2 linked regions of the Homo sapiens genome follow. Each later gene encodes a partner of the first gene's protein in a complex. Each region holds a gene or a part of one and is shown on either strand. Other genes may lie near its edges. The genes, in order: TAX1BP3 and KCNJ4. A codon is read from its position in the direction of its gene.

Region 1 (3,480 bases):
TGAGGCAGGAGAATTACTTGAACCCAGGAGGCGGAGGTTGCAGTGAGCGAAGATCACGCCATTGCACTCCAGCCTGGGCAACAAGAACGAAACTCCATCTCAAAAAAAAAAAAAAATTATTGACTTTTCTTTAAAATCTGATTTGGCAGTGCTAGGTAGGTCCAGGAGTGCTAACACCTTCCCAGAGGTGGTACGCAGGTAGTCAGGTGCTCTCTGACTCACCCCCATCTGGCCAGATCACGGCCCCCAGCAACACGTGGGGTTGTGTCCCTCGCTGGGATACACGGAGTGCCCTTATAGGCAGGGAGTCTTATAGGCAGGGGTCTCTCCCAGGCACCTCTGGGTGTCCCTACGGCCCCTCCCAGGTGGGAGCTGAGGCTAGGTTGCAAAAAGGAGGTTGGGAGCAAGTAGGGGCTTCACAGTAACACCCAAGAAAGCACACGCACCCCAGGGTCCCACCCCAGTGCTCCCAGACACTCCCACAGATGTGGTTCTGGTCAGGCGCAGTGCAGCTGCTGCGGCTCCACCAGCCCCGGGCTTTCAGGCAGGTGGGCCTGGGAGTAGTTGAGCTTTGTCCCAGAACAGTGGGGGATGGGGCCATCATTAAAACCACAGCTCTGGCCCCAATATCCCACCGCCACCCCCACCCCGATATCCCAGCCCATGCCTCAGCAAAGCCCCCTGTGAATTCCAGCATTTTTATTGAGCGCACCACATCGGGGAGGGGCGGCAGTGGTTTCCACGGTAACCAAAGTAAGGCTTGTGCACTTGCTGAGCTTCCAGATGCGAATTAGTAAAAGCTAAATTCAAAAGTAGAATGGGCATCTCCAAAGAGTACGATAAAAACATTTTGTATCAAACTTGTGATTAAAAAAATACAAAAGTTAAACCCACAGGCAAAGAGGAAAATGACAATCCTGAGAGCTGCCCTGATAGGTGAGCCTCGAACCTCGTCTAAATCCGTAAGAAGGCAAACCCTGGGGAGGCCAGCACCCCTCGGGAGAGTGGGAGTGAACGCGGAGCCCACCTGGCTTCATCTGGGCAAAGCTTCGTAGCGCCTCTGGCAGGATGTGTGTCCAGTCCCCCGAGGGGCAGAGGCACTGCGGTGTGGACACACGAGGGCTGGGGGGCAGGGGCGGAGCCGAACCCTGCAGCCAGGCAAAAGCGGGAAAGGCCTGGTTCCTCCAGCATTTCCCAGCTTTTGGGGGCTCCCAAGAGATAGTGGTTCCCACTTGCCCAGCCACTGCTGTGGCCAAGCAGCAGGGTCGGACCTGAGCCTGTGGTCACAGCAGACTGGCTACTACTCAGCTCCAGGCCCTTATTTCCAATCCTCGGTGTCCAGGAGAGAAAGCCGGTCCCAGAGGCCCCAGGCCAGGGATGGGAGAAGGGAAGGAAGGCCAGGCCAGGCCTCTGGGACCAGCTATAGCCCTTCTGAGCTGGGGCCCAGCGGTCAGCAGAAGCCAGATGGGGACAGAGTGTGGAAGTGGCGTTACTGTACAGAGAGGCGGCAGGCAGGAGTCGCAGATGGTGGTGGCTGCTAGGACAGCATGGACTGCTGCACGGCCTTCTGCAGCGACTGCCGCGTCACCAGCAGACGCACCACCTCCTCCGAGCGCTTGGTGAGCCGCTTGCGGGCCTGGTCGTGTGTGACCATGGTCATGTCCCAGCCGTTCACCTGGCCCCAGGAGAGAACACAGGCTCACCTCAGCTCCCCGCCCTCTGGGATCTGGAAGCAGAGGGCTTTGGGGGCCCAGGTCATTCAAGTAGGCCCCCAGCCTAACATCCCAGGGCTGGGAGACACCAAGCACTGTGGCTGAGACACACAGGAGAGAAAGCCAGCGTCCTCTGGGGCAATGCCAGTATGGGTTCCCAATTGGCTGCAGTGAGTCTCTCCCAGCTGGGAGGCTGGGGCAGCTCCCCACCCCCAAGTGCTTCAGACCTGCTTGCCCAAACCTTGTTTCTCCTCCTTTGGGACACCTGTTACCTGCATGATCTTGTCTCCAATCTGCAGCCCAGCGATTTCAGCAGGGCCTCCTTCAGACACCCGTGTGACATAAATACCCTGGAAAGGGGCAGCCCAAGTCAAGCCCTGTGGTCACTGGACTGGCCCCTTATCACACAGCGGAAGCCAGCATGGCACATTCTCAGCCGTCCCTCTGTCCCTGCACCCAGCCTCTCCCAGCACATATGGTCAGTGAGGACTGTTCTGAGAGAGCCGGGGCAGAGTTGCTGCACCACCATGCACCGGCCCTGCTGATGGCCGCCTCCTGCTCCTCCTGGGCTCTGTCTGAGCAGCCCTTCCTCACCCCACCCGTCCTTATTCTCACTAGGTCACTTCCGATGCCTTCTTAGAGAGCATGGTTTGAGAGATGAAGTCTGTTCCTTCCATGCAGGCCCAGGAAGCAGAGACCCACCATCTCAGGCCCCTGTGCCCCATGGAGCGGTCCCAGGACCCCAGACCCCCTCACCTTGTCCGTCTTGTCTTCAGAGAAGGGATTCTGGGAAGGATCCTGGTCGATTCCACCTCCAATGCTGAAACCCAGGATTAAGTTCTCACCTTGACGCAGCTTGTGAATTTCAACTCTTTGCTGGCAAAGAAAAAAGCCAGTTGAGAGAAGTGGGTGGTTGGAGAATTAGGCTGGTGGGTGTTCCCAGCAGCAGCCTCAGAGCCATGACAAGGGGCTGGGTCCCAGGCCCCTGCAGGAATCCAGCTGCTCACCAGCCTGGGAGGCTGAGGAGCTGGCACTCAGAACTTGGCCACATTGATCCACCCACACAGCCCTGTGTCCTCAACCTGTCCCCACTTCCCCTGTTAGTCTTAGGCACTAGTCTTGGTCAACATGTGGTGGAAGCCCCTGCTGGCCCAAGAGTCCAGGTGCTGTGGCTTCTGTAGGTGGGAAGCCCGTCTCACAGGAGGTGCTCTGGAAAAGCAGAGATCAAACTTGCATAGAAAGGAGAGGAAGGGGTTTCCTTTCGGCCGGAACCGCCATCTTCCAGTAATTCGCCAAAATGACGAACACAAAGGGAAAGAGGAGAGGCACCGGATATATGTTCTCTAGGCCTTTTAGAAAACATGGAGATGTTCCTTTGGCCACATATATGCGAATCTATAAGAAAGGTGATACTGTAGACATCAAGGGAATGGGTACTGTTCAAAAAGGAATGCCCCACAAGGGTTACCATGGCAAAACTGGAAGAGTCTACAATGTTCCCCAGCATGCTGTTGGCATTGTTGTAAACAAACAAGTTAAGGGCAAGATTCTTGCCAAGAGAATTAATGTGCGTATTGAGCACATAAAGCACTCTAAGAGCCGAGATAGCTTCCTGGAACGCGTGAAGGAAAATGATCAGAAAAAGAAAGAAGCCAAAGAGAAAGGTACCTGGGTTCAACTAAAGCACCAGCCTGCTCCACCCAGGGAAGCACACTTTGTGAGAACCAACGGGAAGGCGCCTGAGCTGCTGGAACCTATTCCCTATGAA
Region 2 (5,669 bases), on another chromosome or scaffold:
CAGGCACACACACGACACACACAGGCACAATTACATGTGTGCTTGCTCACTCTCTTTCTCTCCTTCTCACCCCTCCATCTTCAACCAGCCTACCCCTAATGGACCATGTACTTTATTAAAAATATATAGTTACGGCTGGGTGCGGTGACTCACACTTGTAATCCCAGCACTTTGGGAGGCCAAGGTGGGTGGATCACCTGAGGTCAGGAGTTCGAGACCAGCCTGGCCAACATGGTGAAACCCCATCTTTACTAAAAATACAAAACTTAGCTGAGTATGGTGGCTCATGCCTGTAATCTCAGCTACTCAGGAGGCTGAGGCAGGAGAATCGCTCGAACCTGGGAAGCGGAGGTTGCAGTGAGCCGAGATTGCTCCATTGCACTCCAGCATGGGCAACAAGAGCAAAACTCCGTCTCAAGAAAAAAAAATAATAATAAAAAATAAAAAAAAAATATATATATATATATATATATATGGTTACAAACTCTGTTGTCAATCTGGGCTGGGCCCGGGGCTGGAGGGACTGCAGGGAGGGAGGGATGGTCCCTCATCCCACCCCTCAGAGTCCCTCCTCTGCACCCAAACCCAACACCATCCAAGGGCCAAGGTGGCTGGCGTTGAGGGCCTCAAGGGGCCAGCCAGCTGGGCAGGGGAAGGCGCTAGGCTTGATGGGCTGGGTGGGGAGGGGTGCACAGAGAGGGACTGCATCTCCCTGTCCAGCAGGTAAAAACGGCAGAAAGTGAATTTGGTGTCTCCATCTGTCTCCATTTATAGATATTTACAAAAGAAAGTCATGAGCAACAGGCCACAGTCATGCAAAAGAAACGCACCCCCCCCTCCCCAAACTAACCCCCTGCCCACCCTGAAACCCCGAGATGTCCCCCGCCCAGCAGTCCAGCCACCTTCCCCAAGGTTCTGAGAGCAAAGAGGGCACGTCCTTGAAGAGTCAGTGGGGGAAGGGTGGTGGATCCGGGGACCTAGAGCCACCAGAAGTAGGCGCTGGCGGAACTCAGGCTGATCGGGGCCGAGCTCTTCCCAGGCCTGGGTGCTGGAGTCAGGAGGAAGGGGTCCCCCAGTCTTTGAAACCCCCACCTTCCTCCAGAAGGTCCACGGAGCCAGGGTTGGCTCTGTCCTGAGTGTGGGAGGGGGTGTCCTGGCATCCCACCCCCGGCAGAGGCTCTTGTGGGCAGTGGTGAGGGCCGGGCCTGGAGGTCAGATGGCAGACTCCCTGCGGTAGGAGATGTTGTCCAGCGGGAGGGAAGCCTGCATGCGCTCCAGGTCCAGGTGGCTGCCGAACTCCAGCATCCGGATGATGCCCGCCTCCTCCTTGGAACCCGCCTCCAGGCCCAGGCCTGCGGCCACCGCGGCCGCCGCAGCTGCCTCCTCCTCCATCTCCTCTTCCTCCTGGCTCATAAGGGCCAGCTCGTTCTCGTAGCAGAAGGCACTGGGAGGGGGCGGTGGGGCGGGCAGCACGGTGATCTTACTCTCCTGCAGCTCCCGGGCCGAGCAGCAGGGCGTGCCGGCCACCTCGTAGGTCTTGTGAAAACGTGAGTAGTCCACCTTGTAGTGGCTCTTCTCCTCGAAGACCACAGGCTCAAAGCGGTGGCCCCACAGGATCTCGCTGGCCAGGTAGGAGCTGCGGGCCTGGGTGGTCATGGCCGTGGCCTCCACCATGCCCTCCAGGATGACCACGATCTCAAAGTCCTCCGACTCCAGCTCCTCCTTGCCCATGCCATAAAGCGGGCTGTCCTCGTCGATCTCGTGGACAATGATGATGGGCGACACCAGGAAGATGCGGTCCAGGCCGATGTCATAGCCCACGTTGAGGTCCCGCTGGTCCAGGGGCAGGTACTCGCCCTCCTGGGTCATGTAGGGCTTGATGAGCTGGGCCCGCACGTGGGCCTCCACAATGTGGCTCTTGCGCAGGTTGCCCACGCGCCACATGAGGCAGAGCTTGCCGTCGCGCACCGAAATGACCGCGTGGTGGCTGAACAGCAACGTCTGCGCCCGCTTCTTGGGCCGCGCCATCTTGGCCATGATGGTGCCAATCATGAAGGAGTCGATGACGCAGCCCACGATGGACTGGACCACCACAGCGATGACTGCCAGCGGGCACTCCTCTGTCACGCACCGGAACCCATAGCCGATGGTCGTCTGCGTCTCCACCGAGAACAGGAAGGCACCCAGGAAGCCGTTCACGTGCATGATGCAGGGCTTGGGGGCCACCGGGGCTGCTCCGCCACCACCCGCCGCCGGGCCCCCCGCCGCAGGCACCCCTGGGCTGGCCTCCAGGTCACCGTGGAAGAAGGCGATACACCAGAAGAGGAGGCCGAAAAAGAGCCAGGAGACAAGGAAGGCCGCGGAGAAGATCATGAGCATGTAGCGCCAGCGCGTGTCCACGCAGGTGGTGAAGATGTCCGCCATGTAGCGCTGCGACTTGTTGCTCAGGTTGGCGAAGTACACGTTGCATTGGCCGTTCTTCTTGACGAAGCGGTTGCGGCGCTTCCGCCGGGGCACGTGGGCCTGGCCGTTGCGGCTGTGTCCGTGCATGTCCTGAAGCCGGCGTGGTCACCTGGGAAGACGCAGGGCCTGCGGAGGAGAAGCCGGACAGGTGAGATGCTGGGGAGCGAGGGGCTCCCTCGGGGCCACTCAGACTCAGCCCCAAGACTCTCAGAAGCAGGTGAGCCTGGACCAGGACCTAAGACTTCCTCTGCCCCGGCAGGCGGAGGGTGGCAGCAGAGGTGGCTCTGATGACAGGGTCTGAGCCAGTGCCACCCAGTCCGGCCCAGCTTAGAGACTGGGGTCCATAGACCAGGAAGCTAAAGCCACAAGGATCCAGGTCCTAGTCCCTGCCCCTCAACACTGCCCCTCCGGCCCTCCTATGCTCACTGTTCTGGAAGCTTCCTGATGCCCATCTTGGTTCCTCCCTGTCCCTCTGTCCTGCTTGCCCTGAGCATAGGGAGCCACGGAGGCGCTAAGCCCGCTTCCCTCCCTGGATTCCATCTCTGCACTTTTGGGCTTCTCGGGGGCTGGACATCCTCCTGTGCACTAGCCACTGGCCACGTGTGGCTCTTTACATTTAATTAAAACGAAATAAAATATTAACTGCAGCTCCTTCCTTGCATGAGCCACATTTCAAGTGATCAGGAGCCACATGTGGTCAACGGCCACCACACTGGACAGAGAAGACACAGGAGAGTTCTATCACTGAGAAATTTCTGGCTGGGCACAGGGGCTCATGCCTGTGATCTCAGCATTTTAGGAGGCCGAGATGCAAAGATTGTTTGTGCCAGGAGTTTGAGACCAGCCTGGGCAACAGAGTGAGACCCCATCTCTACAAAAAATAAGAAAATTAGCCAGGCATGGTGGTGCATGCCTCTGGTACCAGCTACTCAGGAGGCTAAGGCAGGAGGATCTATTGAGCCCAGGGGGTCAAGGCTGCAGTGAGCTGTGATCATGCCACTGAACTCCAACCTGGGTCACAGAGCAAGACCCCATGTCAAAAAAAAAAAAAAAAAAAAAAAGAAAGAAAAAGTTCTACTGGGACCCGCAGCCCCACCTGGGTCTGAGCTCCTTTCTTAGACTCTTCTCTCCCAGTGTTGCTTTGAGTCCTTGAGCCCAAATTCCTGCCCAGTGCCCACACTTGTTAGGAGCAGTGGTGAGGGGAGAATCCAATGTGACAGTCAGGGTGGAGGAAGGGGGAGCCCCCAGCTCTGACTCCTCTGTAGACATCGCTATTCCCATGTCCCAGGTGGCTCAGAGATGGAAAGCCACCTGCCAGCCACAAAGCTGGCAGTGGATACAAACTTGCGTGGCACCAACATGAATGAGTTGATGGCGGGGAGACAGGGAGTGGGAGGGGAGGACACACCTCGGGCAATTCAGTTCACCTCTCAGAGCCTCCATGTCTTCATGTAACATGGGCACCAAAACTCCCTACCTCATGGGACCTACGGGGACAGCAGGTGCTGGGGTAAAGCCATCACCCTCCTGCCTTCCTTCCCACACTTCCCAGGAGCTGGTGACAGGCAGGATTTGCCTGTCAAGCATCCCCAGCTGTTGCAGCAGAAGAGGCCCCTCACCCCACTGGGTGGCGGGATGCGCCTCGGGCCCGTAGAGGACAGACCTTCTCTCCACCCCTCTCTGCCATTGCGTCCCCAGGGAAGACATGCTGCTGCCCCAGGCCCCAGCAGCTGGCAGGGCCAGGACTGGGCCTGGGTTCCCAATAACATTTTGGCCCAGAATTACATAAGGCTGGAAGTTTCTATTTTCTGTTCTATTCTTCTTCCTGATCTAATTGTGCATCTGTGGCAATGTTTATACACTTCCCCGGTTCAGGACAACTCGGTTGCCGCAGCAACCGGTACGCGCCAACGCTATAATTTAGAGATCAACAGCCTCAGAGCCTGCCTCTTCCCAAGAGAAACTCCCTCTCCGGGCCCAGGGAGAGTGAGCCCTGCCCCCACCTCCTCCCCCGCGGTCACCCACCCTGACTCCGAGTTCTTCTCCCTATTCCCCTGGTTCTCAAAGAGCTCCCTGGCTCCTACAGTCCTGGGTTGAAGTCCTAGATCCACTGTGTGACTTGGGCGAGCTGTTGACTACTCTGAACCTCAGTTTCCTCATCTTGAAAATGGGGCTGACTGGGTGCGGTGGCTCACGCCTGTAATCCCAGCACTTTGGGAGGCCGAGGCGGGTGGATCACCTGAGGTTGGGAGTTTGAGACCAGCCTGACCAACATGAAGAAACCCCGTCTCTACTGAAAATACAAAAATTAGGCCGGGCATGGTGGCGTGTGCCTGTAATCCCAGCTACTGGGGGGCTGAGGCAGGAGGATCGCTTGAACCTGGGAGGCAGAGGTTGCAGTGAGCCGAGATCGTGCCACTGCACTCCAGCCTGGGCAACAAAGTGAGACTTCGTCTCGAAAAAAAAAGAAAATGAGAAAATTGGGCCAATGAGATATCATGCTGGAGACCCGACAGGTCATGCAGGCACGGCCTCTAACGTAATGCTGGCCCTTCAGAGCTGGGAGGCCCAGACCCTCTTTGCCCCCTCCCGCAGCATCCCAGCAGCCAGGGCTCCAGGAGAAAGGCTTGGGGTTCTGGGGCCAGGCACACCTTCTGCTCTGTAAATAGAGTTTTCAGGGAGGCCTTTCTTTGCTAAATGTATTCCCCCTGTTCTGTCCCACTGCCTGAAATGGCTCCAGGGGCACCGCGGACTGTCAGGACAGGAGGAGCATAGGGTCACCGAGTTCAGGACCCTCATTTTATATCGGAGACCAAGGACATCCAGAGATAGGAAGGACTTGCTAAGAGTCCCAGAGTGGAGCCAGGTGGGCCAGCCCTGAACAAGGCCTCACCCCCACCCCAGAGCTCCTCATCCACTTCCTCCCTGCAGGGGGCTGGAGTGGGTTTTGGGGCAAGGGAAGAGAAGAAACCAGCCAGTCCAAACTGGACCACCATCCACAGGTGTGCAGGATAGAGGCAGAGGGGACAGGGTGTGGCGGCCCAGGCCTTCAACGGGTGAGGTCACTGAGCTCCAGAGAAGGTGGGGGGCCCTGCCCAAGGCCAAACACAAGCCCAGGGTTCCAGGGGATCCCTGGTTCTCTGCCCGGTGGGATTGCCTCCTGACATGGCGAGTTCACCTGGTGCTGCAGACGAGATCTCTTCCTG

Evidence for each region.
Region 2: the proteins of TAX1BP3 (region 1) and KCNJ4 are in contact, whole or in part, in a crystal structure (PDB 3GJ9), measured with the Homo sapiens proteins. Residues at the interface, in NP_055419.1 of Homo sapiens: Leu27 (codon at 2,549), Ile28 (codon at 2,546), Leu29 (codon at 2,543), Gly30 (codon at 2,540), Phe31 (codon at 2,537), Ser32 (codon at 2,534), Ile33 (codon at 2,531), Gly34 (codon at 2,528), Gly35 (codon at 2,525), Asp38 (codon at 2,516), Gln39 (codon at 2,513), Gln43 (codon at 2,501), Asn44 (codon at 2,498), Thr58 (codon at 2,050), Arg59 (codon at 2,047), His90 (codon at 1,645), Asp91 (codon at 1,642), Arg94 (codon at 1,633), Leu97 (codon at 1,624), Thr98 (codon at 1,621); in NP_004972.1 of Homo sapiens: Arg440, Arg441, Glu442, Ser443, Ala444, Ile445.

The regions. Positions count from the first base shown.
Region 1 is NC_000017.11:3,662,211-3,665,690, forward strand, and holds the end of TAX1BP3 (tax1-binding protein 3), read right to left. Parts: intron 2,589-3,480; coding exon 2,469-2,588; intron 2,063-2,468; coding exon 1,985-2,062; intron 1,676-1,984; coding exon 1,538-1,675; 3' UTR 685-1,537; downstream 1-684. UniProt on the Homo sapiens protein: May regulate a number of protein-protein interactions by competing for PDZ domain binding sites. Binds CTNNB1 and may thereby act as an inhibitor of the Wnt signaling pathway. Competes with LIN7A for KCNJ4 binding, and thereby promotes KCNJ4 internalization.
Region 2 is NC_000022.11:38,425,583-38,431,251, forward strand, and holds the end of KCNJ4 (inward rectifier potassium channel 4), read right to left. Parts: intron 2,590-5,669; 5' UTR 2,551-2,589; coding exon 1,213-2,550; 3' UTR 745-1,212; downstream 1-744. UniProt on the Homo sapiens protein: Inward rectifier potassium channels are characterized by a greater tendency to allow potassium to flow into the cell rather than out of it.